4 linked regions of the Homo sapiens genome follow. The protein of the gene in region 2 interacts with the protein of the main gene of each other region in a biochemical or structural test. Each region holds a gene or a part of one and is shown on either strand. Other genes may lie near its edges. The genes, in order: PRKCG, AFAP1, PRKCE and PRKCB.

The links.
Region 1: the proteins of AFAP1 (region 2) and PRKCG form a complex in vitro, tested with the Homo sapiens proteins (one study listed by BioGRID).
Region 3: the proteins of AFAP1 (region 2) and PRKCE form a complex in vitro, tested with the Homo sapiens proteins (one study listed by BioGRID).
Region 4: the proteins of AFAP1 (region 2) and PRKCB form a complex in vitro, tested with the Homo sapiens proteins (one study listed by BioGRID).

What each region holds. Positions count from the first base shown.
Region 1 is NC_000019.10:53,899,180-53,906,205, forward strand, and holds part of PRKCG (protein kinase C gamma type), read left to right. Parts: intron 1-1,053; coding exon 1,054-1,145; intron 1,146-1,239; coding exon 1,240-1,302; intron 1,303-1,431; coding exon 1,432-1,570; intron 1,571-3,893; coding exon 3,894-3,974; intron 3,975-5,455; coding exon 5,456-5,563; intron 5,564-7,026. UniProt on the Homo sapiens protein: Calcium-activated, phospholipid- and diacylglycerol (DAG)-dependent serine/threonine-protein kinase that plays diverse roles in neuronal cells and eye tissues, such as regulation of the neuronal receptors GRIA4/GLUR4 and GRIN1/NMDAR1, modulation of receptors and neuronal functions related to sensitivity to opiates, pain and alcohol, mediation of synaptic function and cell survival after ischemia, and inhibition of gap junction activity after oxidative stress.
Region 2 is NC_000004.12:7,936,862-7,944,735, reverse strand, and holds the start of AFAP1 (actin filament-associated protein 1), read left to right. Parts: upstream 1-4,874; 5' UTR 4,875-5,080; exon of another isoform or gene 5,081-5,735; intron 5,736-5,946; exon of another isoform or gene 5,947-6,083; coding exon of another isoform or gene 6,084-6,144; intron 6,145-7,874. UniProt on the Homo sapiens protein: Can cross-link actin filaments into both network and bundle structures. May modulate changes in actin filament integrity and induce lamellipodia formation.
Region 3 is NC_000002.12:45,654,653-45,661,678, reverse strand, and holds part of PRKCE (protein kinase C epsilon type), read right to left. Parts: intron 1-7,026.
Region 4 is NC_000016.10:23,831,013-23,838,993, reverse strand, and holds the start of PRKCB (protein kinase C beta type), read right to left. Parts: upstream 3,012-7,981; 5' UTR 2,819-3,011; coding exon 2,646-2,818; intron 1,620-2,645; coding exon 1,588-1,619; intron 1-1,587. UniProt on the Homo sapiens protein: Calcium-activated, phospholipid- and diacylglycerol (DAG)-dependent serine/threonine-protein kinase involved in various cellular processes such as regulation of the B-cell receptor (BCR) signalosome, oxidative stress-induced apoptosis, androgen receptor-dependent transcription regulation, insulin signaling and endothelial cells proliferation.

The sequences.
Region 1 (7,026 bases), on a different chromosome or scaffold from region 2:
TGGCCAGGTGAATGGGTCCTGCGGAGGTGTCGTGAAGCGGTTGAGTTCCTTGGGGGCGTGGCCAGGTGGATGGGCTCTTGGGGGGAGTGGCCAGATGCCTGTTTCCCTGGGGAGCTTGGTCTTGAGTGGCTGTAGCCAGTGCTCTGGAATTTTCAGCAAAGGGGCACAGTGGAGGAGGGTGCCTTCCTAGTGGGCCTGCCCAGAATTGGGCTCCGAGTGACGGGGTCATCACTTTTGGATTCTGACTGAAGGACACATCAGAAACAGGACATTATTTCCTTAGGATTGCGACTTAGGGGCAGAGAGTCAGAACCTGCAAGATTTTAAGAGGGCGTGACTTTACTTCCAGGGGCTCCGAATGAGAGTGGCCAGCCACCTGGATTAAAATATATGTATGAGCAACTTTGATTCCTTTTTTTTTTTTTGAGAAGGAGTTAGCTCTTGTCCCCCAGGCTGGAGTGCAATGGCGCGATCTCGGCTCACTGCAACCTCCGCCTCCCGGGTTTAAGCAATTCTCCCGTCTCAGCCTCCTGAGTAGCTGGGATTACAGGCTCCCGCCACCACACTCAGCTGATTTTTGTATTTTTAGTAGAGACCGGGTTTCGCCACGTTGGCCAGGCTGGTCTGGAACTCCTGACCTCAGGTGATCCACCCGCTTCGGCCTCCCAAAGTGCTGGGATTACAGGCGTGAGCCACCACGCCCAGCTGCAACTTTGATTCTTAGTAGGAAGCCAGAATTGCATCTGTGTGTGAGTGGCTGTGGAAAGAGATTTTGGTGTTCCCGGATTTCGAGCGAATGGTGGGCTTCAGTCTTCAATTCTGAGAAGGCGGGGCCAGAACACGTGGTCTGATAGTTGGCGGTGGTCTGGCGGGTGGAGATTCTGAGGTAGCAGGATTAGCACCTTAGGGCCCTCCCAGGGATGTGGCTAGGTGCTCTGAATTTCTGGTTGGGTGCATCTGGAACCTTCCACGTCTGTCCTGAGTGATCAGGAAAGAAATTCTCCTACTCTGGGTAGATGGATCCCGCCTCTAAGCCCATGCACTTCTCCGCAGGACCGCCTGTATTTCGTGATGGAGTACGTCACCGGGGGAGACTTGATGTACCACATTCAACAGCTGGGCAAGTTTAAGGAGCCCCATGCAGCGTGAGTCTCGGCCAACAGAGAATGGTCGGGGTGGTGGAAGGGGGCAGGATCCAGCCACTGACCTTCTGACGTCCCCACCCACCCCGTCCTCCAGGTTCTACGCGGCAGAAATCGCTATCGGCCTCTTCTTCCTTCACAATCAGGGCATCATCTACAGGTGAGCAGCCCCAGGAATTTCCGTGGAGGAAATCACGCCCCTGGAAGGGAAGGGATTTGAATATGTGGCTCTAGACTGCTGAACTCAACACTTCTTGCAATTCCTGCCCCACACCCCTGCATCGTCCAGGGACCTGAAGCTGGACAATGTGATGCTGGATGCTGAGGGACACATCAAGATCACTGACTTTGGCATGTGTAAGGAGAACGTCTTCCCCGGGACGACAACCCGCACCTTCTGCGGGACCCCGGACTACATAGCCCCGGAGGTAACCCCAACCCTGCTGCTCTGGTCACGCTTTGAGATCCCTTAGAGGGTGTAGCTGATGGTCCAGTATTCACCACGGGTGAGGCCTGACCCTCAGACCTTGTCATGAGTTGTGGCCTTCTTACACAGCCAGTCGTTCCTCCAGCCTCCAGCACAGGTGAGCTTGGCACTGAGCCTGCCAGGTGGGCCCAGCTGGGTCTCTAAATAGGTAAGGTGGGCAGCACCTGTGGGTGAATGTTCCAGGAGAGTGGGACCAGCTCGTAGGAATTCCAAGTAGGACCTGACCCTGGATCCTTCTGAGAAGGGGCAGACGATTTCTAGTGTACTCTGAGTGGGTGTGGCCTGTCCCCTGCCAACACTGAACATGTCCGGACTATCTTCTGAATACTTTAAACTGGGCAGGGCTCTCCCTGGAGTATTCAGTTGGATGGAAGCTTATTTCCTGTGTTGTACGTGTTTCTCTGATGTAAGTGTACTGGACTTCTGTGCTGCATTTTTCAAGAGGGCAGGATCAGCTGGGCGCGGTGGCTCACACCTGTAATCCCAGCACTTTGGGAGGCTGAGGCAGGTGGATCACTTGAGGTCAGGAGTTTGAGACCAGCCTGGCCAACATGGTGAAACCTCATCTCTAACAAAATTACACAAATTAGCCGGGCGTGGTGGCATGCGCCTGTAATCCCAGCTATTCGGGAGGCTGAGGCAGGAGAATCGCTTGAACCGGGGAGGCGGAGGTTGCAGTGAGCTGAGATCACACCACTGCACTCCAGCCTGGGTGACAGAGCATAACTTCATAACTTCATCTCAAAAAAAAAAAAAAAAAAAAGCCGGGTGCAGTGGCTCACACCTGTAATTCCAGCACTTGGGAGGCTGAGGCGGGCGGATCACAAGGTCAGGAGTTTGAGACCAGCCTGACTAACATGGTGAAACTCCATCTCTACTAAAAATACAAAAATTAGCCAGGCGTGGTGGCGGGTGCCTGTAGTCCCAGCTACTTGGGAGGCTGAGGCAGGAGAATTACTTGAACCCGGGAGGTGGAGGTTGCAGTGAGCTGAGATCGCGCCACTGCACTCCAGTCTGGGCAACAGAGTGAGACCCTGTCTCAAAAAAAAAAAAAAAAAGAAAAAGAAAAAGGGCAGGGTGAGATCCCTAAGGTTCTGGGAGAGCAGATGCTGTCCTATGAGTATTTTAAGTGGGTGGGGTATTACCCGACTTTGTTAAAGGGGTGGGGCTGATGTTCTGAATGTACGTATAGATGGATAAAGCACATGCCTGTAGTCCCAGCTACTTGGGAGGATGTGCCTGACTCGTGCCCAAATAATCAATGTCAGTGATCACAAAACCTGGCTGGTAATCAGAATCATCTGTAGAAAATTTGAAAACTGAGGCCAGACATGGTGGCTCATGCCTGTAATCCCAGCACTTTGGGAAGCTGAGGCAGGCAGATCACTTGAGGTCAGGAATTCAAGACCAGCCTAGCCAACATGGTGAAACCCCGTCTCTACTAAAAATACAAAAATTAGCTGGACATGGTGATGTGTGCCTGTCAACCCAGCTACTCAGGAGGCTGAGGCAGGAGAATCACTTGAACCCAGGAGGTGGAGGTTGCAGTGAGCCAAGATTGCACCACTGCACTGCATCCTGGGCTACAGAGTGAGACTCCATCTCAAAAAAGAAAAAAGATAAGAAAATTTGAAAACTACACACATATTCCTGACTCTGACACAAATATTCTAGGTGGGTGGAACCAGTGACTTGGCCGTTAGGTAGTCTTTCTATTTGAGGCCAAATGAATGTTTGAAGTAGGTATGCTTTGTTTCCAGAATATTCCAAAAGTTAGATCGCTGGCCAAAATATTCAGAGTGGAGGCTGGGCGTGGTGGCTCACTCCTATAATCCCAGCACTTTGGGAGGCGGAGGCAGGCCAATTGCTTGAGTCCGGGAGTTTGAGACCAGCCTGGGCAACATAGTGAGGACCTATCTTCACTAAAAGTGCAAAAATTAGCCAGGTGTGGTGGTGCACACCTGTAGCCCACCTACTTGGGAGGCTGAGGTAGAAGAATTACCTGAGCCTGGGAAGTTGAGGCTGAGTGAGCCGTGATCACACTACTGTGCTCCAGCCTGGGCAACAGAGTGAGACCCTGTCAAAAAAAAAAAAAAAAAAAAAAAAAACGAAACAAAAAATCACCTGATGAAATAAATATTCAGAGTGGGAAGAGCTTGTGCTGAAAGCACTTAACGTGGGTAGCGCTCCCAGGGGGTGAGGCCAGAGGGGTCCTAGGCTTCCTAAAGAACGCATCATGATTCCCTGCCTTCCACCTCCCCTAGATCATTGCCTACCAGCCCTATGGGAAGTCTGTCGATTGGTGGTCCTTTGGAGTTCTGCTGTATGAGATGTTGGCAGGACAGGTAAGGGAAGGTGGGGAGAAGCTGGCTTGGCTAAAAGAGACAGAGAGGGGCACCTGGATCTCAGGAGGAGCCAGTTAGAAAGGAGCCCAGAAGGTTGTGCTCGAATAGCGCTGTCCATGGTTCTGAAGTGTTGTCTTAATGTAGACCAGGTGTTTTGTTTTGTTTTGTTTTGTTTGTTCTGTTACCATGGATTCTTTCTCCCTAGATGGTAAAGTAGCAGTCTGGTTAAGCCTATGGATCCCTTCTCAGAAGAATGTTTTTCAATGCACAAAATAGAATAATACATACGCAGAAAACCAAGGTTCAAATCCTCACTTTGCCACTTACTGGCTGTGTCAGCTTAGACAATTACATACATTCTAAATCAGCTTGATTGGATTCCTGGACTGCTGAGTGTACTACAACTAAAAAAATTGGTTACCACACTCTTGATCATCTTCTTAGCTGGCTATGGTAGTGGGCACCTATAGTCCCAGCTACTGGGGAGGCTGAGGCAGGAGGGTCACATGAGCCCAAGAACTCAAGGTTACACTGAACTATGAGTATGCCACTGTGTTCCAGCACAGGCGACAGAGCAAGACCCCATCTCAAAAGAACAAACAAACAAAAGAAATCAATCATTTTGAAAGATAGTCACCAAAACTTTTAAAATTTAATTGAATCTAACAACCAACTAAATTCAATGTATACAGTTGTCTAAATATTTAAAATTGGAAAATGGACATATGTGCAATTTCTTATTAATTCATTAAGTAGTAAGTTCTAATGGTAGTAAAGTAAAAAGGAGCTCTAACAGTAATTTTGATGTAGCAATGACTAATAATTTGGAATATCTGCAACTCTCATGTGATGAGAAAATACCTGTGATTACTATTGATAATGAAGCCACAAGCACTGCTGCTGCCTGCATTCATAACTGAAGGGAATGCTAAATTTTAGTTAGAAGTTAAAAAAAAATTTGGCCGGACATGGTGGCTCACGCCTGTAATCCAAGCACTTTGGGAGGCCGAAGTGGGCAGATCACTTGAGGTCAGGAGTTTGAGACCAGCCTGGCCAATATGATGAAACCCCATCTCTAAATCTTTGCCTTGGTATCATTTTTTGTAACCTCAGAAGACTGTGAACTACTCATCCAACCAGGAGAATGCTTTTAGGGTGTTTCCTGCAGTTTTTCCTCTCTTCTATTTAACTGACATGTTGCATAATTAACAGCCTGCTGATTTACATAGCAGATAAAGAGAGGCAGAATAGTACAGAGATGCACAGATCTGAGGCATCCGAGATAGGAAATGAGAGAACCTGAGAAGGAGAGAGATCAAGCTTTGGTGGTTTGGTCTGATCTCTCCTGAGGGTGTGGTCAGGTGTGCATGTGGGGCGTGTGATGGGTCAGGCATGTTCCCGGTGGGGTGAGGAGGGTGTGGAAGGTTTGGGGAAAGGCAGTTGGGCATGTCCCTGACTCTCTATCCCCTCCACTTTGATAGCCTCCCTTCGATGGGGAGGACGAGGAGGAGCTGTTTCAGGCCATCATGGAACAAACTGTCACCTACCCCAAGTCGCTTTCCCGGGAAGCCGTGGCCATCTGCAAGGGGGTGAGAGCCCCCTGACTCCCAGCTTCTCCAGGCTCACAACCACACACCCCATTGCTGTCTCTGTGCCTATTAGAAAAATGCTCCCATTCCTGAAGTCACTTTACTTCCATCTGTTGGAAAAGTTGATATGATGCATAGGTTTTGTTAGAACAATGATTTCCAGCCCTGTTGCCACGAGGCCTGGAGATGGCCTCTGTCTCATCCTTCTCTGTGACTCCCACTCCCCAGCTCCCTGCTTGCAGGAAGTGCTGAAAGTCCAGGGTGTCTGTCTGTCTAGAACTGGGTGGGTCAGGTAAACCCAACTTCTGCAGCTTTTCTTCCTGTGTGAACTTGGGTGAGTCACCAAAACTTTGTGAGCTTAACTCTCTTCAGGGGTTATGGAGTTGACACAGAAGAAAGCACCTGGCCCATAGCAGATTTTCAGCCCATGTCAGCACCTTCTGCGTCTAGCTGCTCTCTCTGCATCTCCCTGACAGTCTCTCTGGTTTCTGTCTCATGCCTCCCCTCCATCTGCATACGATGGGGCTCTCTGTGTTTCTTCCTTTTCTCTGTGTCTCCTTCTGCATCTCTGTCTACACTTTTGGGCCTTTGTCCAACCCCCCTACCCCCCATCTCTGTCCCCTCCTGTGTCCACTCTCATACACACACGCTACATCTCACCCTCCTCTCCTGCTGGCTTTCTGTCCTCCCTTTTCTCTGGGTCTCTGTCCCCATATTTGGTCTTTATTCCTCCCTCTGGGTGTGTGTTTCCTGGGTCTCTATCCTTCTCTCTTTCTGAATCTCTGTCCCCCTGGGTCTCCTCTGTCTCCTCCCTTCTCTGAGTTTCTGCCTTCTTACCTGGGGTCTCTGTACCACCCTCTGAATTTCTATTTCCCCTTTTCTCTGGGTCTGCAACCTCTCTTCCCCCATTCCCTCCCTCTTCCCCTTCATCTCCTCTACCCTTCCCTCCCTCCCCCTACCGACCTCCCTCTGTCCTTCACTCTCCCCTTCCCTCCCTCCCCCTACCCTTCCCTCTCCCCGTCCCTCTCTCCCCTTCCCTCTCTCCCCCTACCCCTTTTCCCTCTCCTCTTCTCCATCTCCCTCATGATTTGTTCTGTTTCTCTGTGTGTCCCTGGGTCTCTGGGTATGAATTTCATCTGCTATCATTTTCATGTATCCTCTCCTTCTTCCTGTCTCTCTCTCTCTCTCTCTCACTCACTCTCACCCTCTGTCTCTCTCTCTCTCTGTCCCTCTTCCTCTCTCTCTCCTCTCTGTCTCTCTCTGTCTCGCTCTCTGTCTGTCTCCCTCCTCCTCCTCCTCCCTCCTCCTCCTCCTCCTCCTCCTCCTCCTCCTCCTCCTCCTCCTTCTTCTTCTTCTTCTTCTTCTTCTTCTTCTTCTTTTCTTCTCTCTCTCTCTCCTTTCTTTTCCCTTCCTCCCTCCATTTGCCTGTTTCCCCTGGCTGTTCTTATCTCTCCGGATCTCAT
Region 2 (7,874 bases):
CACAATGGCCACTATAGCTGCAGATATCACACCCATGTTCATGATCATAATCCCTGCTGCTGAGAAAAAGACAGCGTCTGCTGTGTCTTTTCCTTTTCCAAGAGAGCAAAAACTTCCCTCAAAATCAGGGGTGTGCTGGTATTTTGGGGGAGAGGAGGGAGAGGGAAAGTCCTGATTTTTAACAGTTGCCAATTTCTTTATAAGTTCCCCTACTATGTCTGATTTCAAGCTACCACCATGACATTGCTGACTACGGCGTTGGAGAGAGAAGTCAGCAGCACACCATGATTTAGGATTTCCACCTACTGACGCGGGAGATGCAAATCTTTAAGAACATAGTAAGAGTAAAACAATCAGGAAATAATGCATTTTGATGATTTATTATCTTTGTTTTATATTTATATTTACATTTAATTATATAAAATTAATATATAATTTTATAAAATTAATATATATAATTATATAAATATCTAACATAGGCTGGGCACAGTGGCTTACACCTGTAATCCCAGCACTTTGGGAGGCCGAGGTGGGCAGATCACCTGAGGTCGGGCGCTTGAGACCAGCCTGACCAACATGGAGAAACCCCATCTCTACTAAAAATACAAAATTAGCCAGGTGTGGTGGTGCAAGCCTGTAATCCCAGCTACTGAAGAGACTGAGGCAGGAAAATCACTTGAACCTGGGAGGTGGAGGTTGTGGTGAGCCCAGATCACGTCATTGCACTCCAGCCTGGGCAACAAGAGTGAAACTTCATCTTGAAATAAATAAATAAATAAATAAATAAATAAAAATACATATTTATGTATAAATATATAATTATATACATAAATGTATATATTAATATATATTTATTATATATTTATTAATATATAAAATATGTTTATTTATTTCTGAGACAGGGTCTGGCTCTGTCACCCAGGTTGGAGTGCAGTGGCACTATCATAGCTCATTGGAGCCTTGAACAGATGGCTCAAGCGATCCTCCCACCTCAGCCTCCTGAGTGGCTAGGATTGCACGCACACACCACCACGCCTAGCTAATTTTAAAATTTTTTGTAGAGACAGCGTCTTCCTTTTTTGCCTAGGCTGGTCTTGAACTCCTGGGCTCAAGTGATCTTCCTGCCTCAGCCTTCCAATGTGTTGGGATTACATACGTGGGCCACTGCACCCGGTCTAATGCATTTTTTAATTTGCAAGTTTATATTATTTAATATTTTTAAGTACTGAATGTGTTGAACACCAACTCGCAGAATTCCCGAACAATGGACGGTCAGCTCTCATGTTCTGGTTCAAACAGCCCCAGCACACCACGGCTAGAAACCTGTCAGCCAACTTCCACTTATATCTCCCTGGGCAGGACAATGTTGCTTGGCCAATCCCCACTAAGAGGAACTCTGGAAAGGCAAGAAACTATTCTGTTCTCTATAATGGAACGTGACCAGGGAGAAGGCAGCTGGCAGGGCCAGTTGGGCCCTCCAACCAGCAGCATCCACCATCGACCAACTGCCCTAGAACTTCACTGTGCTGGGCATTTGGGGCACTGTTATGAGTAAGAGTTTTCATTTTTCTTCTCATGGGGCCTTCATGCAAGAGACAATTTTTTTTTTTTTTTGGAGACAAAGTTTTGTTCTTGTTACTCAGGCTGGAGTGCAATGGTGCAATCTTGGCTCACTGCAACCTCTGCCTCCTAGGTTCAAGTAATTCTCCTGCCTCGGCCTCTCGAGTAGCTGGGATTACAGGCATGCACCACCATGCCTAGCTAATTTTTGTATTTTTAGTAGAGATGGGGTTTCAACATGTTGGCCAGGCTGGTCTGGAACTCCTGAGCCACCATGCCCAGCCAAGAGGCAGATTTTAAATCAATAAGTATAGTTGTGATGAATGCCAGAAAGAAGAAAGTGTGTGATGGGGAGGGGACCTACGTTATTGTCTTATATTTTAACACTTTCATAGGCAATAACTAAAAACTTAGAAGCTTAAAACAACACACACATTTAACCCAGTTTTGGCAAGCGAGGAGTTGAGCACATTTTAGCAGGTCCTCTGCTTGGGGTCTCACGCTAAGGAGCTGGGCTACATCCTCATCTGAGGCTCAACCAGGGCAGAATCCATTTCCAGGTCCACTGAGGTTATTGGCAGAATTCATTTCCTTGGACCCGCTTGGCAAGGGCCCAGCTTTTTGCTTCCTTGCTTACGGGGCCCCTCCAAAGGTCCTTTCTCAGCATGGCATCTCCCTCCTGCAGGGCCTGCAGGTGGAACCTCTCTCTCTAGTGTGCAAAGGTGATGCACTGTGACAGTGACATCCATTGCTTTTGCCAGAGGCTCTGTGGGTTAGAAGCCAGTCACAGGTTCTGCTCATACCCAAGGTCAGGAAGATTATGCAAGGGCATAGGTCATCGGTCACTGGGGGGGTTAGTCACTTTAGGGTGTGGCTGCCACCACTGAACTTGGTGAGACTTTAAGGGTTGGTAGGAGCTGGCCAGGTACAGGGGTGAGGGTGTGTTAGGCAGCGGTGAGGGCATGGAGGGGGATGCAGAGGCCTGCACCCTGGAATGTCCTTTCACTCCCTGAGGTTGTGTTCTCCTGATCCCTGAGTACATCCCAGAACACAGTGGGGCCCTAGCTGGGGAGAGGTAGGGAAGCATGTGATGTTCATCGGGGGACCTTGTTAGGCAAATCAGATTAGGGGCCAGGCTTTCAGTGGTGGGTGCGAGTGTGCAAGTGAGTGAGTGTGCAGGTGTGTGTGGGAAGGGAGATGGGGATAGGGTCAGCCCCAGCCATCATCAAGACCTCACCTGTGCATCCACCCATCCCAGCAGCATCCCTGAGTGAGTGCCTTCAGGGCGCAGGTCCTGTTTTGCACATGGAAGTGAATCAGAGTGGGACACTGCCTTGCCTTAGAGAGGTCACACTTCTTTTTTTTTTTTTAACTTGTGATAGAGTCTCGCTCTGTTGCCCAGGCTGGAGTGCAGCGGCGTGACTTTGGCTCACTGCAACCTCCGCCTCCTAGGTTCAAGCAATTTTCCTGCCTCAGCCTCCTGGGTAGCTGGGATTATAGGCACGTGTTACCATGCCTGGCTAATTGTTGTATTTTAGTTTCACCATATTGGCCAGGCTGGTCCCAGACTCCTGGCCTCAAGTGATCTGCCCCCCTTGGCCTCCCAAAGTGCTGGGATTACAGGCGTGAGTCACTGCACTGGGCAAGAGGTCACACTTCATGCCAAGTGGGAGGCAGCCACTCAGACAGCACCCCAGCTGGCGCTGGGAGTGAGGGGTGCTCAGCGTCCTAGGAAGGCAGAGGGCTGCGTGAGAGGTTTGGGGAGGAAGGACTGGAGGAGGATTTGAGATTTTCACCTGAGCAGCTAGGTGGATGGAGGGGCTGTTTACTGAGAATCACAAGAATGTGGATGAGCAGGTTGGGGCACTGATAAAGCACTCTGTTTTGGCCCGCAGAAAATTTGAGATGCCTCCCTGGTGTCCAGCTAGGCCTTTGGGAGAGGTCAGGGCTGGGCATCTGACTTGGATGGATGTCTCTGGCAGGCAGCAGAGCATGTGGATGGTTTGTGAAGCCCAGAAGGGCATGAGATTTCCTGTAGCAGTGCCCACTGTGAATGGAAGGGCATTTGGCCTGAGCCCAGACATGTACAAGTTGGGCAGAGAAGGGGGTGGGTCCCTGGGACCCACAGAGGAGCAGCTATGGAGGTACAGAAAAACCAAGTGTGTGGGGGTCACATGATGCAGGAAGCTCAAATAAGATGAGGAAAGAGGTTTTAAAGATGATCAGGGTTGGGGACAGTAGTTCATGCCTGTAATCCCAACACTTTGAGAGGCTGAGATGAGACGATAGCTTGAGGCCAGGAGTTTGAGACCAGCCTGGGCAACATAGGGAGACCCCATTTCTAGAAATAAATAAATACATTGGTACTTGGCATTTCAGGTGGGGAACAGCAAACACGTGAAAGCTCTGAGGCAGGAAAGCGAAGTGATTAGTGCTTGCTTGCTCCTGGTTCCTTTATCAGGCCTTAAAGAGATGCAGAGACATCTCAGGTACTCCTTGGCCGAGCTCCTTCAGGGAGGGCCTAAGTTCGCTTCTACTTCACATCTTTAAAAAAAAATTTTTTTTTTGGAGACAGAGTCTCACTCTGTCGCCCAGGCTGGAGTGCACGCAGTGGCACGATCTCGGCTCACTGCAACCTCCACCTCCTGGGTTCAAGCGATTCTCCTGCCTCAGCCTCCCCAGTAGCTGGGACTACAGGTACGCGCCACCACAATCGGCAAAGTTTTTGTATTTTTAGTAGAGACGGGGTTTCATCTTGTTGGCCAGGCTGGTTTCGAACTCCTGACCTCAAGTGATCCACCTGCCTCGGCCTCCCAAAGTGCTGGGATTACAGGTGTGAGCCACCGTGCCCGGCCCTACTTCACTCCTAACGCCCGCCATACGTGCTTCCAAATGTTTGCTGAATGACTACAAGATGAACGAGTGAATGGGATTACGTTTCTTCGAGCGGCAGGCAATCCTATTCCTTGGACCTCAGTTTCCCTTTCTGTAAAGCAAGCCTTTCTCTCGCTCTCTGCCCTAAAAGCCTGAGCTCTGGGTTTGAGATGAGCGCGTCCTGTAGAGCCGACTCCAGGTAGACGTTGAGCTGGGTATTCTAGGAGGCGATGATCGGGCCGGCTCTTTGAGGCGGGTCCTCCCGCGGGACCCCGCAAGCCCAGTCCCAGCACCGCCCCGCCCAACCTCCCTTTGTTCCCTCAGGCCCCGCCCACTCCGCGCAGCTCGCTTCCCATTGGCCGGGGGGCGGGCCCTGGGCGCCCGGCTCCGCTGGGGGCGGGACGGCGGGCGGCGGGCGGGGCCGTGTGCGCCTGCGTGGTGTCTGTCCCGGCCGCAGCCCCACGCCGGCTGCAGCTCCGCGAGCCGAGCCGGATCTCGAGCGGGGTACACGGGCTGAGGCGGCGGCGGCGGCCCCGCCCCGGGGCTCCATTGTTAAGGCGGCTGCGGCTCTGTCGGCTGTTCAGCTGCGCTCCAGTCGGCCCAGGCGCCGCGGCGAGGAGCGAGCGCTGCGAGGTGGCGGCCTGAGGTGAGACGGCGCGACTGGCGGCAGGGTCTCCGGACCCGGCGGGGGTCTCTGCCCCGGGCGTGGAAGCTCCGAGCGGGGCTCCGCAGGGTCCGGGGTCCGTGCGCCTGGGCTTTGTCTCGGCCTCGGGTGGTACCGGGGGCTCCGCGCCTGCTGCGACGCCGCGTGGGCCCGCGCGGGGGTCCCGGTCGTCCTGCGGGTGGGGGCCGGTCCCCACTGCTCCCCAGCTCCCCGCGTCTGCCCGGAGGGGACTGCGTGGACCCGGGCGCTGGCTCCTGCCCGGTGCCCCCGCGGCGTGGCTGGTCCCCGTGTGCGTCAGAGGGGGCCCTGCGAAGACCCACTCGTGGGGCGGGGTCCGGGTCACCAAGAGTGGGAGGCTCCGCCGCCCTCCCCCGTAGCGAGACTGCTTCGTCCGACTTACCGAGGGGACTGCGCGGACCCTCGGACGAGGGGGTCCGTGACTCTGGATGGGGGCTCTTTCTTGGCCCCGCATGACGGCTTCCTGAGTGTTTTGTCACCTATAGGTTGTTGCGTGGACCCACGCGCGTGGGTCCCGGCCGCCCTGCGAGTGGGGCTCTGCGCCGCCCCGTGGCTCGTCTGGGTCGACCCCGCCTGGGACGCGAGTGTAATGGGGGTCCGTGCGCGGGGGGCGCGGTTGGTGGGGGCGCACTGCCCCGCCCCGTGATTTATCCTCTCACCTGCCCGGCGGGTGGAAGCGAGAGGCGCGGGCCCGGAGCTGTCGCGCAGCGGCCGCACCGTCCTCTCCCCTGGCCGGCGGGCCCCGGGGGGCGCGGGGCTGTCACCGCGCGTCCCACCGCCGCGCTTCCTGCTCTGGCCCCGGGCTGGGCTCTGATTGGAGGGAGCAGGGCCCTACTGCCCGGAGCTTCTTGATTTCTTCCGTTAGTAATGGGAAGAAAAAAAAAATCTGGAAAGCCAGATTGAACTTTGTAGCTCTCAGCGCCTGGAGAGTGGAAGAAACTCTCCCAAGAATTTGGCGGGCTGGAAAATGCGTTTCAAGCAGGAGCATCCACACCCACGGAATGAGGCCAAGGCAGTTACAGTTAGAGGTCAGATTTATGAGGGGAGAGCGAGGGTGAGGTCCGTGGGTGGGGAGACTCCGACCTCAGCTTGATGGGAAGACCTGATGCTGCCCCTCAGACGCTGTATTTCTCAGCCACCAAAGAAAGTGGAATCACTCCTTAGTGAATGCTTTCATCAAACTTTTGAAAAACCTGTTATGTCCCAGGAAGCAAAATCGAACTGGACAGTTTTCCCCTTTTAGGAGAGTTAAAGATCCCGGAGACAAACAGCAGAAGGCTCAAGGAGTCCAAATACCCAACCTGAAGTTCTTTCTGAACAAGAGATGGTGTTTAAGTAACAGGCATACAAGACAAAACTGAGCTAATTACCGCAGCTGTGGCTCCTAGCCCTCTAGCGTGTCATGCGGGCCCTTTTGCTTTCTCTGCCCTCCGCTGCCCCAGACCCCCACTCTACGCCGCACCTCCAGTCATCAGCTCATGCCGACCCATTGCTATGGACTCTGTTGAGGTGGCTCCCTTCTCTCTGAAGCTTTGCTTGTTCTCCTGAAGTCCTGGTCTTTAAGAGCTTATGATCTGCCAGGACAGATTGGCTTTGGGTAATACATGGTTAACTGTAGCACAGCTTGAAAAATGCTCTGATAGAGGTGGGCAGGCGCAGTTTGTGCATGCGGGTAAATGCGAGCTCCTTTTTCAATACCATGAATCCAAGTATTCATGCTATTTTAAATCTGCAATTCTTTGACTCTCCAGAGGGTTTTTAGATTAATCTTTTTCTATTACTTCCTAATGTTTGTTGCATAGTGCAGAGTACTTGATTAAAACTTAGCAGGTCGGCCGGGCGCGGTGGCTCACGCCTGTAATCCCAGAACTTTGGGAGGTCGAGGCAGGCGGATCATTTGAGGTCAGGAGTTCGAGACCAGCCTGGCCAACATGGTGAAACCCCGTCTCTACTAAAAATACAAAAATTAGCCGGGCATGGTGGTGGGTGCCTGTAATCGCAGCTACTCATGAGGCTGAGGCAGGAGAATAGCTTGAACCCAGGAGGCGGAGGTTGCAGTGAGTTGAAATAACTCCACTGCACTCCAGCCTGGGCGATAGAGTAAGACTTCGTCTCAAAATAAAAACAGAAACAATGTACTGGGTCTACGTCCGGCTCTGGAATTTTCCTGGAAGGCCTTCTCTTCTGGGCTTCATTTTTCTCACCTTTGAGGATCGTAAACTACATAATTTCTAAGAATCTTTTCAGCCCTACACCTTTAATTCTTTCAAGCAAATATAGTAGAGAAAAATTCTCTTACCAGCAATGGTGTAAATAACGGAAGCCTTTGAAAATGTGGATTCTAAAGTGGAAGTTTCTTTTCTTCTTCCCCTTTTTTTCCTTTTAAACAAGTTGAGTTACATGTGTATATACTTTATCTCAGAGTTAAGGACAAGTATCTATGATGAAACCTTAAGCAACTTTTTGGCAATATCTTTCATATTCTTCATAATTGTTTTATGTGCAACATCTTCACTATATCCAATTGGTTTGTTTTTTTCTCATTAATGGAGTTGTTGAGCTCAGATCTTTTTTTCAGGAGCATTTTGTTGATCTTTTAAGTGTCATGTGAAGTATGTTTCAACCTAACATTTTATTTTGGAGAGTAAAATGGGAGTAAATGGAATTTTGAGAGTGCCTTGAGTAGATGTACTTGGCTTTGTGTAATGGTTTGAAGCCTAGTTTAAAATTACCACTTGTGGCCAGGTGTGGTGGCTCA
Region 3 (7,026 bases), on a different chromosome or scaffold from region 2:
CGGGCACCTGTAGTCCCAGCTACTCGGGAGGCTGAGGCAGAAGAATGGTGTGAACCCGGGAGGCGGAGCTTGCAGTGAGTAAAGATGGCACCATTGCACTCCAGCCTGGGCGACAGAGCGAGACTCCTTCTAAAAAAAAAAAAAAAAACAAAAAACAAAAAACAAAACAAAACAAAAAAAACTCTTCTTGAAGCCAGGCGCAGTGGCTCACTTCTCTTATATAATCCCAGAATTTTGGGAGGCTGAGGCGGGTGGATCACTTAAGGTCAGGAGTTTAAGACCACCCTGGCCAACATGGTGAAACCCTGTTTCTACTAAAAATACAGAAATTAGTCGGGTGTGGTGGCTCATGCTTGTAATCCCAGCTACTTGGGAGGCTGAGACAGGAGAATCGCTTGAACCCGGGAGGCAGAGGTTGCAGTGATCCGATATCATGCCACTGCACTCCAGCCTGGGCAACAGAGCAAGACTCCATCTCAAATTTTAAAAAACTCTTCTTAAGCTTGATTACATTTTTAGTCTTATCTATCTCTTGGGGTCAGGAGCTCAGTGAGTCTACTCCTTGCTGGCAAATACAGGTGACTTTTCACTAACATAAAACTACCTCTTTGAGACTTCAAGGTGGGGTAGAGGTCAGGGATGAGGAGAGAGGAGATCCTCATTTCAGCATCTGGGTTTCATGATAGGCTTCTGTTTTTCCTCCTCTTCCCCAGCACAGTATTACAGATTTCAGTTATATTTCCTCTGGAGTTTCAATTTTGTTTAGATGTCAGTGAGTTACGATGAATTGTATGTTCCTGTCCTCCTGGTTCTCCCAGCACAGTACAGACTTTTGGCCACTTCACATGGTTTCTGACAGAAAACTAAATCTCAAACAGGTGCAACCATGCTGATTAGCATTATAATAGATTGTAATTACTAACAAGCCCATATATACCCAGAGGAACTTGGAGAGAAATATAATGTTTTGCCAAGTGTAGCTTTTATTTATGTAAAATATTGCAGGCCTGCTCTGGAGTTATTTTAGCCTAAGTGAAACCCCTGGAAGCTTTGTCTGAACATGCTTCAATAGCTCTATGAGTTCAGGCGCCGGAATTTGAAATTTCGTTTCTTGTTGCTGCCAACTACAAAGGGTTTTGTATCTAAAGCCCTGATGAGAATTTGAACTTCATTTAAACTCTGCAAATGGAGGACAAGTGGGCCTTTTTCTTCTTCCCTCACCATGGCACCTGGAATGGGCCCTGGGCACTCAGAGGGTAGAAAATTCCTACTTTTGGGAAATTCAGACTTGACGGAGATTCTTCAGCTTGATGCAAATTGCTATGTGGAAATAATATAGCATTCTCTCATAAGAACATCTTCAGGGATCTCATAGATTTTTATAAAATAAAATATCCTTTTCTCCTTCCTCCTCCTCCTCACTTCTTTCAACTGTACAGAAGGATTGTTTAAGAAATTCATTCAACTGGTTTCTATCGAGATGCCATGCTCCTCAGAGGCAGGAACTACACATACACAACTTTTGTGTTACCAAACCCCATATCTACCAACAGTGCTAGACCATAGTAGGTACTATAGAAATACACACTTGTTTTGTGTTCATTCATTCATTCATTCATTCAACAATGTGCCAAGAAATTTATTCATTCATTCAACAATTTATTCATTCATTCAACAAAGTGCCAGGCACTGTTTTGGGTGCTGAGATAAAGCGGTGAACAAAAAGCTCTACATTTATAGAGCGTCTGGTGTTCTGGTATTAGAAATAAACAACAAAGATAAATAAGAAAACTAAATAGCGTATCAGATAGAGGTAAGAGTAAAGAGTAAAAAAAAAAAAAGGCAGGAAAGGCGCATATGAAGCATAAAATAAGAGGGTGAACTTTTAGATAGGATTGCCAGAAAAGGCCTTACTGAGAACATAACATCTGAGCGAAGACTTGAGCCATGTGGATATCTGGGAAAAGGGCATTCTAAAAAAATGGGATGGCAAGGGTAAAGACTGAGGCAGGAGCATGGTAAGTGCATTTAAGGGGTGTCAAGTGGGTCAGGATAGCTAGAGAGGAATGAACAGGGAGAAGAGTGGCAAGTGATAGGGTCAGAGAGGTCACAGCAGAAGGCCTGACTTTGTTGGTCTTGTAAATTATGGTAAGGGATAATCTCACCTGAGAGATCTGTGAGCAGAGACAGGAGCTGAGAAGCCAGGACAGGTGGAAGCAATTCAGAGGCTGTTGAAATAATCCAGGTGTGAGATAATAGTGACTTGGACCCAAGTGAGGTCAGCAAAGGTATGGAAAGGATGTGATCTGAGATATATTTTGAAGGCAGAAAGAGCAGATGTTGCTGATGGATAAGATATGGGGCACCTGAGAATTACAGGCGTCAAGGATGGCCCCTCAAGGTTTTTGGCTGGGTAATTGGAAGGATGGAGTTGCCATTTCTTAAGCTGAGGAAGAAGGGCTTAGATTGAGGAGAGGGGAAAATAGGTATACAATATTAGGCATATGGAGTTTAAGATGCCCTTTACACAATGAAAGCTGAGGACCTGAAGGCAATCCCATATATAAAGTCTAGAGTTCAGGGTCAGGCATGAGCTGGAATTAGGAATTTAGTGTCAACAGCACTGAAAGTGTATTTAAATCCATGAAACTAGATGACATTGGCACAGTAAAACCAAAACACCAGCTCCCAAATATCCTCATTTCCAATTACCCATACCTCTTCAATAAATAATTAACCTTTGTCTACAATGACCGCAGCTTCTAGACTTTCCAGAACAATCTCATTTCAAGTAATTCTATTATCTTCCAAAGGGCAATTTGTTAAGTATAACTAAGTCAAATTTATTTTTAGAGTATGTAAGACTTTTCATATAAATACATTCACAAATCAAGGAGAAAAATATATTTCACTGGACCATATGTTCTGATTTAAGATTCTAAAACTATGAACACACAAATGACTCTTCAAATATTAATAAAATTGCTGAAATGTATTATAGCCAGACCACTTGCTACAAGCTTTATAGTTCCTTATTTAATTCTCATAGCAACTCTGAAAGTCAAGACCTACGACATTTCCATTTTACAGATGAAGAAACGGGCTTAAAAAGCCTAAGTCACATGCTCAAAGTCACACAACTAGTGAGTGGTGGAGATGCCTTCCAGTTAGAACTCACTGAATCCAGGGAGAGCGGTCCATTGAGGAGCCAGGGAATTCAGGGTCTCAAATATTCACTAAATCTGCTGCTGGTCAAAGACACTAAGAAGAAGAAACAGTTCAAACAACGCTTGACTGTCCATGAAGTTGAAGGCTAACTCAGGTCCTTAACTCTAGGGACCCAATGCCAAGAGGTTGTCTGTGATAGCACTGGGCCAAGAATGAATCCTTTGGGTAGTTGTTAAACAACCAGCTATGGACCAATGAGAGCAATATTGGATTACATGGTATTATGGGAGTAGGGGAAAGGGAGATCCAGGGACCCTTGGCTGCTGGGGAAATAATTCAGGGTATAGGCGCACACGAAGGAGGTATGGACAATTGCCAGCCCTTCCCTACCTCCTTACCCCCTTAGTAGTCCCTTCCCACCCCACTGTGTTTAAATGACAATGGAGGTTTCAGAAATCCTTTTAAAAAATTTTTTCCTACAAATGTCCTGAAGATAGAGATGTGCTCTAGAGTAACATATATCAAAGTGCGGTCAGGCTGCCATTGTAGGAGATGCAGCAGGGGTCCTGCTTAACTCAGGCTCCATTCGGGGCATCAGAATCAGCACTGCTAGAGGCTGTGCCCTGGCATCTGTGTTGCATGAATCTCCCCCAAGTGATTCTGGTGGGCCAAGGGAGAACGGCCTCAGAGCCTAACCTCTCCGAATGATGTACAGGCCTATCTCCCAGAGTCCAAACAGGGTATAGGCCTATCTCCCAGAGTCAGCAGGGGTGCCATCATTTTGAAAAGCTTTGCCGATGGGCTACTTGGGAAATACAAACCAGAAATGACACTTCTAGTGTCCCATTCTTTGCCAAATGAGATGGCCAGACTGAAGAGAGCTACTTTGGAGAATATGAAAACCTAGCTTTCTCGTGGCCTATATAATAATCAATTCAGTCAAAAACTCTCTCTAGGCCAGCCCCATGCTCATTTTGGGGGCTATAATAATAATAATTATAGTAGATATGCATTGAGCAGTTACTAGGGACCAAGCATTGGTGTATGCATTGTACATGTATTAACTCATTTTAATCCCCACAGTAAACCCATTTCATTATAGGGAGGTATATTTATTATCACCCACTTTGTACAGGGGAAGGAATGGAAATACGGAAGGTTAAGTCACTCGCTAAAGGTCATGAAAGTGGTAGATGGTAGAAGTGGGATTCAAGTCCAAGCAGTGTGACTCCAGACTTCGCTGCTCCGGGGAATCACCTCTCAAATGATGGCTTTCTGTACCTCTGGATTCTGAGTGCCTGCCTCTTCTACAGAATACAGCAAGGGAGTGACATTCGCCAAAGATGTCTTCAGAGGCAGGGCAGTAGAACAAAGAGGAAACTGAGCTCAGTGTGTAGACTACTGAAGCAATGATAGAGAAAAATCCAAAATGTGAACGAGCCAGCTAGCTGTCACCTGCATGCAGCCCTTCAAGCCCTAATCCTTGCTCCGCCTGCCTCCCACCCCTGTGCTAAATGCAATGCCAATCCATCCAGCATTCATTCAGCCTCTGCTTCTAACATGAATCCCAATACTTCTAGTTCACACAATTATTATTCTAAATCTTTCTTTAAAAATTATAAAGTTATACAGTCACATTTCAGGACATATCTATGTAAAAATGCTTGATCCATTAATTATCTGGAGCCCTCTCTGGCCTGCAATTTCTATTCTAGCCCAATGTTTCTCAAAGCAAGCCTGGTCTGGTCAGAATCTCTGGGACAGCTGGTTAAAAATGTAGATTCCCAGCTTATTCCAAATTGTAGCATCAAAAGCTCTCAAGGTTGGGCCAGAGGATCTATATTTTTATCTATATGGATCTATATAAATCTATATAGATCTATCTTTTATATGCCCTCCCTTACTGATTCTTATGTACATGAAAGTCTGAGTAGCGTTATTAACTGGTTCTTGGAAAACCCAGCTATAGCAATAGTGTTATAATAGATTTTACTTCAAAGCATCAGCAAAATCTTTCCTTCTCTTTGTAATGAGCTTTCTCTAAAGCAACCTCCTTTGTCATCACAACTGAAACATCTCTCATTATCTGGAGAATAATTATCTCAGCTTGGCTTTTACGCATTCTAGAATTCACCTCAGTTTTCTAAACTTTTTCCTACTCCAATGTTTCCGAAGTGTGGGCCCCACATCACTAATGATGTTCAGAGGCACTTGGAATGAACTTTGTTTCTGTATTGTAGAGCCCTGTTTATTTTAATGTGAACAAAGAAAAGTTATAACTACATGCTCCAAACCTGTGATTTCATGAATAGTGGGGCTTAAGAAAAGACTACGTGGAAAATAAAAGAATCAATTTTTTAAATATTAAGTAAATGAAAGCACAGGCAGTACTCAGAAAAAAGTCTTAAATTTGGGAAACCTTGTCCTGCCCACTCCTTTCTGACAGGTACACTCAGTTTCTGTCCTGCTCATCCATTCTCCAACCCTGACTACAGGATTGTCTGCCTTTATTCCTGCGGTGGCCATGCCAGGAACACTGCTCCTTCTTGTAGATACCTCTTTAAATATAACCTACTGTTTCACACTCAGCTCATGCCTCCTTCCAAAAACCCTCCTGGATTCTTCCAGTTCTCCCTACCTTTTTTTTTTTTTTTTTTTTTTTTTCAAGAGACAGGGTATCACTCTGTCACCCAGGCTGGAATGCCGTGGCCTGATGGTCAGATCATAGCACACTGCAGCCTTGAACTCCTGGACTCAAGTAATCCTCCCACTTTGGCCTCCTGAGTAGCTGGGACTACAGGCACACACCACACCGCAGGTCCAGATTTGGCTAATTTTTAAGTTTCTTGTAGTTATGGAGTCTTACTACGTTGCCTAGGCTGATCTTGAACTTCTGGACTCAAACGGTCCTCCCAGCTCAGCCTCCCAAGTAGTTGGGATTGCAGGCATGAGCCACAGTGCCTAGCCCACACTCCCTTTTTAAACTCTTAACACACTAATGGTACCACCTGTGTGGAACCTAATTGCTAGTTAAGTGTCTACATCAGGGTGTCCAACTTTTAGGCTTCCCTGGGCCACATCGGAAGAAGAATTGTCTTGGGCCACACATAAAATACACTAACACCAATGATAGCTGATAAGCTAAAAAAAAAAAAAATGCAAAAAAACTTATAACGTTTTAGGAAAGTGTACAAATTTGTGTTGGGCTGCATTCAAAGCCATCCCGGGCCACATGTGGCTAACAGGCCATGGGTTAGACAAGCTTGATGTATATGTGGGTACTTGGTGTCAATTCCTTGGTGAAATGGAAGCCCCTTGAGAGTAACCCAGGGCCTCATTTTCCTCTGGATGGCCCACAGTGAGAAGCTTCCCTGGTTAGACATGAGCACAAAACAGGAACTCCAGGAATACAAGTGAATTCAAAGTGCGGCAGAATTCGGTGTTCCGCAAAAATGAGAGAAACGGCTGCTTTATGCTATCCACATCCCCTTACTTCAGGCCAGATCTCTCAGCCACACCTGAGAAGGGTGTGTTTCTTCATTCCTGCCAGGTAAGGAGTGAAGAGACCTGAGCCCAGGGAATTCTACCCAAAGCTATGAAACCATGGGTTTACCCTGAATGTTAAGACTGGGAAAGGTGAACTTAGCCCAGCTGCAACTTGTCTCCATTTCCAGGGGCCAGTCACCCCTGCCAATGAGTCCCCACCTTCAGCCTGGAGGAACCAGAGTGGCTACAGCATCCTCTGGTGAAAACAGATGGGCATTCTGAACCTGCTCCACTGCTTGACTCATCCTTCAGACTTTGGGCTTCTCTATCTCAAGTTTTTTAGTTTGTCCAATACCTGCCATACCTAATTCA
Region 4 (7,981 bases), on a different chromosome or scaffold from region 2:
AAATTACACATTCCGGTGCCAAGACACCATTGGCATTTTGTTTGAGGGGTCAAAGTTCTAGAAAACAATCCAAATTTGTTTGCACCAGGGCCTAAGTTGTTGCCACTTAAAGAGACTTGAGGAGTCCTCTGGTGTGGTGCAGAGGATCCAAATCTTGGTAAGACAGGCTGGGTAGGTTGGCAGGGCTCACTGAGCCCACCGGGACCCCGATCTCAGAAGAGTATGCAAGAGTCTCAGAGGAGCACAGTGCCATGCTGCCAGCAAGCAAACATTCTGCACCACTGACGATGCCACCTACACTCACTAGGGATCACTTTACTTTTCCCTGGAGGGTGGAGGTGCAGCCACAAAACTGTCAGTCAGTGCTAAATCACGTCAGACTCTTCCACACTCAAATACTTTCTTTTGATTTAAACCCAGCTCACCAGGGTGGTGGTCACTTTGCCCCTAAAGATACAATACCCCAGAAATGTGCCGTTTCTTACCAAACTCAATCTTACCAAGCCCAAGAGTGAAAAATTAAAATTTAAATTAAAAAGAAAACATAACACACAAACTTTCCAGATGAGAGGTTGCAAACTTAAATGCCCACAGGGGCCAGAAATGGGTGAAGTGTTCCCCACTGGGATCAACTGAGACAAAATGGTAAGGCTGTTCCCCATCTACGACGACGGCTCTCAGCTCCAAACGATTGTTTTCAAGCGAAAGTGAGACCATTTCTCAGCAAAGTTAAAGTTGGAAATTAGGATGTGTATGTGAAATCTCCCAGTTCTAAAACGTTCACATCAAATTCACAAGTAAGACACCCTAAGGGCTACACAGAGCTGCGGGTAACTTTTGGTCCTGGAGAGCCAATTTGCAATCTGTCTTTTAGACATGAGCCCCAAAGACGGGGGAGGGGGACACTTTACACGTGATCAACTCACCACCAGCAGGTTTGATACCCCTGGTTAGAGTCCAGGATCTCAAGCCAGATGCAAGAACTCAGGTAACCAGTGCCCTGGAGACCTTTCTGTTTCAACCCAGAAGATAGGGTGATTTAAACCAGGATCTGAGAAACACTCCCTCTGGAAATACTTCTTTCAGAGAGAGAGGAGGCCCAGGCGACAAACACAGTCGCCTTTCTAGGGGATGCACCATCTGCAGAGGAGCGGCAGCCACCTGCAGAGACCTCTGCAAGGCAGGGAGAGGCAGAACCTCCCTGGGTGAGATAAGGAAGGGACATGGGCAGAGAAAGGGGAACTAAGGAGGACAGGTTCTCCCAGAAACGTCCCGGGAAAACACTTTCTCCCCCAGCGGAACTGACCATGCCAGGATTGCTTCAGGAGACCGCTTTGACTCTTCCAGAGCCGGGAAGGCAGGAAGGGTAGGTGAACTTCCTTGGCATGTAAGACTCCCAAGCGCCATCGGCCCCAGTCACACACACACCCCTTGAAAGGACCCTGTTGTGGTGAAGAATTCCTAGCCTGGGAGGTCACTCCGACCAACGTGATTCTTTCACTCTCTGCCTAACTCAGTAACTTCTTCTATAAAGTATTTTTCACCCTCTCTTCCCACAAATAGCATCCCCAAAGCCCCAGAGCCTACCTTGGCACTGGAATCCCTGCTTCCCGAAGCCCCTGCAAAAGCAGAAGGAGGTGTATGTCAGGCAGCCCGGGGGGCCCAGCCTCCAGCTAGTTACCCACAGAGTCACCCGCCTTCCTCCCTGCCTCTGTACCCCAGGTGCAAACTCCCAGCCACAGGCGGGTGCCCAAGAGTCTTCCGCCTTTGTGGGGGTAGGTGGGAGCTCGGCTGTAACCCCCATCTGCCTTCACTCCTGCAGAAGAGAGGAGGCTGCGACCACCAGGTGGCGGGATAGTGGGGAGCGTTTCCGTCGGGGTAGGGGCTGAAGGCAGGCGACAGATGTACCCATAGATGCCCCGAGCACCCTCGGGAAAAGAGAAGAGATAAAGACGCATTCAGAGGGAGGGCGAGAGTGACCCCGCGGCGGTGGTGTCCTCTGGGAGGGGGACTGGGAAGGAGGAAAGGATGCCCCACTACTGGAGGGACTGGGGAAGAAAGGGGCCCGCAGTGATGTGACCGAGGAGTGGAAAGGGGAACCCAGGCCCTCGGGGAGGGGCAATGGGAGATAACACAGGGCGCTGCCCGGAGGCACAGAGGAGTGAGAAAGGATGTCCCATGCCCGCAGGGAGATAGAGAAGGACACCCAGGGCGCCGCCCCCCCCGGAAACAAGGGGTGGGGGGCGAGGGCTCCTCGCGCCCGGAAGCAGGCGGAGAGATAGGGAACCCCGGGTCGGAGAGCACCCGAGGCGCTGCCCTCCAGGGCAGGCACAGACCCCGCGCGCTCCTAGTCAGGTGGAGCAAAGGCTCCCGCGACGCCGCCCCTGGGCGCTCTAGAGGCGCCTGAGAGCAGGAGAGGGCAGGAGGCGCCCCGCGGCGGCCCGTCTGGGACCAGGGTGGGGACAGGGCAACGGCAGGACTGTCCATCCGGGAGTCCCGGGCAGCAGGGTCCGGAGCCGGGAGTCCGGAGACGCGGGGTCCCAGGGTGCGGAGGGCGCGGAGGGCGCAGAGGGCGCGGAGAGGGGGTCCCTGGCGCGGCGCTGCCCTCGGGGGCCCGGGAAGGTGCCCTGCGCGCGCGCGCTCACCAGATGAAGTCGGTGCAGTGGCTGCAGAAGGTGGGCTGCTTGAAGAAGCGGGCGGTGAATTTGTGGTTCTTGACCTCATGCACGTTCTTCTGCCGGAGGGCGCCTTTGCGGGCGAAGCGCACGGTGCTCTCCTCGCCCTCGCTCGGCGGCGGCCCCGCAGCCGGGTCAGCCATCTTGCGCGCGGGGAGCCGGAGCCCGAGAGGTGCCGGCCCCGGGGCCGCGGGACCGCGGGCTGCGGGCCGGGGAGGCGCGGGAGGCGGCGGCCGCTGCTGCACCCGGGGCCGCGGGCGCTTCCCCTGCGCCGGCTCTGGCGGCCGCGGCGCGCGGAGCCGGGGCTGTCACTCGCCCAGCTGCTGCCGCTCGTCCAGCTGCGCTTGGCACCGCTGGCCCCAGCTGCGGGGGAGGGAGGCGGAGCCCCGGGCCAGCCCCGCCCTCCTCATTTGCATCGCGCCCAGGCCCCGCCCAGCGCTGCCAGCTGCTTTACATATCGGCGCCCGGGCTACCGCGGGCCTCGCGGCTAAGCGTGCACAGCCGCAGCTCTGCAGCGCCGGGACCGCAGCCCGGGGTCGTCGGACCCGAGCCTCGCCCCCCACCCCACCCCGTCCTCGGCCCCCGGGGCTGCGTTCAGGAGATGTGCCCAGGGGAGGAGCGAGAGTGGAAAGACCTACGGGGCGAAGGGGAGCGGGTGGAAGGGGTGGGGCGCAGCGAATTCCACCCCGGCCTCTGCGGAGACTGGTACCCATCCACCCCCATCCATCCCATTGGTCATTCTGCACGCGTCTCCTGGAGGGATGGGCTCCCGCTGTCACTCATTCGGAAAGGCTTGTGGCCGCACACACTTACACACACATACACACACACGTTCTGCAGAGGTAGGGGAGGAGCGATCTTTATTTTATATGTCTCTAACTCCACCACAGAGAAGATTCTTGGCTTTGCTTGCCTCCTGCACGTTTGGAAGAGAACTCCCTACCTTCTGTCCATCCCCTCTGCAAAACGACTCCGTTTCCCCAACTGTAACATAGGGCTAATAGTGTGGGGAGGAAGGATTTCAGTAGATCAATATTTTTCCAAATTTCATTCATTTCTGACTCGTCTTCACAAATTCTGGTCGTATTTGTGCACCCTCTGGGGGAAAAAAAGCCTATCTCTTTTGGTCTGAGTTTGAACAGCAAGAGGTATCTACATTATTAAAATATCTCCAGGTGCCGTCATCTGTCCTAAGCATCTTCGACTGAAGTCATCTTTTATTTGTTAAGAGAGGAAATTAATAAATGCTAGAGGGGTGTTAAAGACATTACTATCCAACCAGGACTCTCTCCTTGATGTGATCTGAAGGTAACTGAAAGGGTAATAATTGTCTACAATGTGTAATTCAATGTTATTTAGCGCCCTGTTCATGCACAAGGCCTAAAGATACCCACTGCCACCATGTCCCCCACTCTGGGAACGCAGAGCTTCATTAGGCTGTGAGCTCCTTCACCAGACCTAGGCTCTGTGAGAGCAGGGGGGCTGTTCACCACCATGTCGCCCAGCACCAAGCTCAGTGCCTGACACCTCCCAAGACCCCAGTAAATATTGGTTGATTGAGTGAGGGCATGGATGAACAAGTGAATGAATGAAGACTTAAAGGTCGGCACTTCTTACCCCCACTCACACCCAGTAGGTGTTTAATAATAAATATCAAGTGATTGCTGGGCATCAGGTACTTGTGCTGTCTTATTTAGCCCCCGCAACAACCCTATGTAGATCTGGTAACTTTCATTATGGATAAGGATGGGGAGGTTCAGAGTGATTAAGATACACCCACAGTCATACCGTTGCTGAATGGTGATTGGGCTGGCCTGACTACAAAGCATCCTGGTGACAAAGGGGTGAACCTGAGTAGTGGTGGATGAAGGGGGGCAGGCTGGAGTTGCACGAGCTCAGGTCCCACTATGACAATTTTGCCTGGAAGCTGCTGAGTGGTAAGTCATTATTAGGTAGCATGTCGAGAGCAAGGGCTGCAATAATAGAATGTCCCTCTCCTACATAGTAATTCAAAGGTAAGGAGGAAAAAATAGCATTCACTTTTAAGGTTGACATGTTTGGGAAACTGGATGTGCCTGTCTATTATTAGTCCTTGAAGAGGCCCCACCACCTCCCAGGGAGGCTTGGGAAAACATCCCAGGAGACATTGCTGCTGAAGTAGATTTCCTTTGAACTGATGAGCTGGAAGCTCACAGCCCACATCCTGCCTTTTGAATGAAGTGCCCTGGATGACTTTGGTCTGTAACAACAAACAGTACCTCATGGCGCCGGGGCCTGGGGATGCAAGGGCTGTGGATGGAAAAGAGCCACTTGGTTCCTGAAGGCGTTGCACCAAGTGAGGATGAGAAATGTGGTTCCCATTGGACCCAGATTCCTGTAGGTCAGGGTCTCAAACTGGTGGCTCCAGATGCTCTATTTTTTTTAAGCTAGCCCAGTGGGTTGTTGTTGTTGTTGTTGTTTTTTAAGTTCACGGGTCATAGAATTTTACTTAAATATCCAGATTCTGACTTATCTAGGAAAAAAGATAGAGCTAAATGGAGCCTACATTCCTCCCTCACTCATACATTTGTTCTTTCAATCAACAAATTGCTTATTAAGCACCTACTGTGTGCTGTTCCAGATACTGTTAAACAAACCAGACAAAGGTCCCTGCCCTAGTGGAGCTTATAGTCTAATGGGGAAGGGGGAGTAATAACCTAACCAACTAACGAATCCATACCTGGTGGTGTATAATAGAATGTTTGTAAATAAAAATAAAGCATTATTATAAAGACCACAGGGAAATCCTTTATAATATGGGGACATCTGAGTAAGGCCTGAATAAAGTGAGAGGGTGAGCCAGGGGACTATCGAGAGTTTCCAGACAGAGAAAACAGAAAATGCAAAGAGCCTAGGGGAGTATCAAGCTTGGTATGTTGGAGAAATAGCGAGAAGGCCTCAGTGGTTGGATGAACAGAGAGGAGAGAGGACTTATGAGATGAGGTCAGGGAGGTAGCAGGGCCCCAAAGGGCTTTGCAAATGTGATAAGGAGTTTGGATTTCACTCCAGTGAATGGAAGCCATTGGAGGGTTGGAAGCTGAGGAGTGGCCTGATACAACTTATGGGGTTTTCATTTTAAAAGCTTACCCTAGCTACTATGTGGAAATTAGAGGAGAAAGGGTGGAGGCAGGAAGAGCAGTGAAGAGGTCAACTGAGCAGATCAGGCAAGAGATTAGGGCAACATGGCATAGTGCCAACAGGAGCTGCAGGGCAGCAGCTCCCCGTAGATTGGGCATGGGTCCTCCTTGCCACCAGAGCCCCCCAGGCCCACTCTGCTCATGAAGGAGTGAATGCTGGTCACTTGAAAGATTTCAGAGGCAGTGAGGGGGCAGGTTGCTGTGGCTGAGAATGGAGTCCAAGGTCCCTTTGCTCCAGACCTGTGGCTGCCATAAAAAATTATAACAGAACAGGGTGGCTAGAAATAACAAAAATTTATTCTCTCATCATTCTGGAGGCCAGAAACCATAAGTCACAGTGTCAGCAGGGCCACATTCCCTCTGGAGGTTTCAGAGGGGAACGCTTCCTTGCCTTTTGTGGCTTCTGGAGGCTGTCAGCATTCCCTGGCTTCCCTGGCTTGTGGTCACATCGCTCCCATCCTCCTCTGTCTTTATATCACCCTCTCCTCTGTGTGCCTATCTTCACCCCTTCTGTTTCTCTAATATCCCCTGTATATCTCTTTTTTCTTTTCTTTTTTTTTTTTTTCCAAGATGGAGTTTTGCTCTTGTTGCCCAGGCTGGAGTGAAATGGCATGGTCTCGGCTCACTGCAGTCTCTGCCTCCCGGGTTCAAGTGATTTTCCTGCCTCAGCCTCCCAAGTAGCTGGGATTACAGGCACCCGCCACCATGCCCGGCTAATCTTTGTACTTTTAGTAGAGACAGGGTTTCACCATGTTGGCCAGGCTGGTCTCAAACTCCTGACCTCAGGTGATCTGCCTGCCTTCAGCCTCCCAAAGTGCTAGGATTACAGGCGTGAGCCACTGCACTGGCCCTATACCTTGTATATCTTTTATATGAACACTGGTCCTTGGATTTAGGGCTTCACTGGATAATCCGAGATGATCTCTTCATCTCAAAATCCTTAATATAGTTATGCCTGCAAAGACCCCTTCGCCAAATAAAATGACATTCACAAGTTCCAGGAATTATAACATGGATGTACCTTCTTGGGGGCTACCATTTAAATGACTACAGTGCATAACCCTGGGCAAGTCACTTACTTCCTCCTGTGTCTCATTTTCCTCTTCTCTAAGGTAGGACAAGGATACAGTAGTTTGCCTCTCAACCCCTTTATTCTTTTGTTTTTTGTTTTGTTTTGTTTTGGTTTTGGTTTTTTTTGAGACAGAGTCTTGCTCTGTCACCCAGGCTGGAGTGGAGTGATGCGACCTCGGCTCACTGCAACTTCCGCCTCCCAGGTTCAACCCATTCTCCTGCCTCGGCCTCCCAAGTAGCTGGGATTACAGGCGTGCACCACCGTGCACAGCTAATTTTTGTATTTTTAGTAGAGACAGGGTTTCACCATGTTGGCCAGGCTGGTCTGAAATTTCTGACCTCAGGTGATCCACCCGCCTCAGCCTCCCAAAGTGCTGGGATTACAGGCATGAGCCACCGCGCTCGGCCTCAATCCCTTTGTTCTAAGGCTGCACTCTTCAACACAGTTGTCACAGTACCCACATGTGGCTGCTGAGCATTTGAAATGTGGCAACTCTCAAGATCACTTAGAACTGCTACTAATTGTAACTAAAAACCTATAGTAAGAAACAAGAAAAGGCTAGGTGTGGTGGAGGCTTATGCCTCCACTTTGGGAAGCCAAGGTGGGAAGACTACTTGAGTCTAGGAGTTTGAGACCAGTTGAGGCAATATAGTGAGACCCCATCTCCACAAAAACTTTTTTTTAATTAGCCAGACAGGTAGTCCACACCTGTAGTCCCAGCTACTCAGGAGGCTGAGGCAGGAGGATCATTTGAACCTGAGAGTTGGGGGTTGCAGTGAGCCATGATTGTGCCACCACACTCCAGTTTGGGTGACAGAGTGAGACCTTATCTCAAAAAAGAAAGACAGGAAGAGAGACAGGGGGAGAAAGAAGGAAAGAGATAGAGGGGAAGGAAGGCAGGAAGGCAGGGAGAGAGGAAGGGAGAGAGGGGAGTATGGCCCCTTCAAAGGGAAAAAATAAACCAACAGAAACTGTCCCAGAGAATGATCAGAAGGTGAGCCTACTAGACAATGGCTTTAAAGCAACTATATTGAAGATGCTCAAAGAACTAAAGGAAG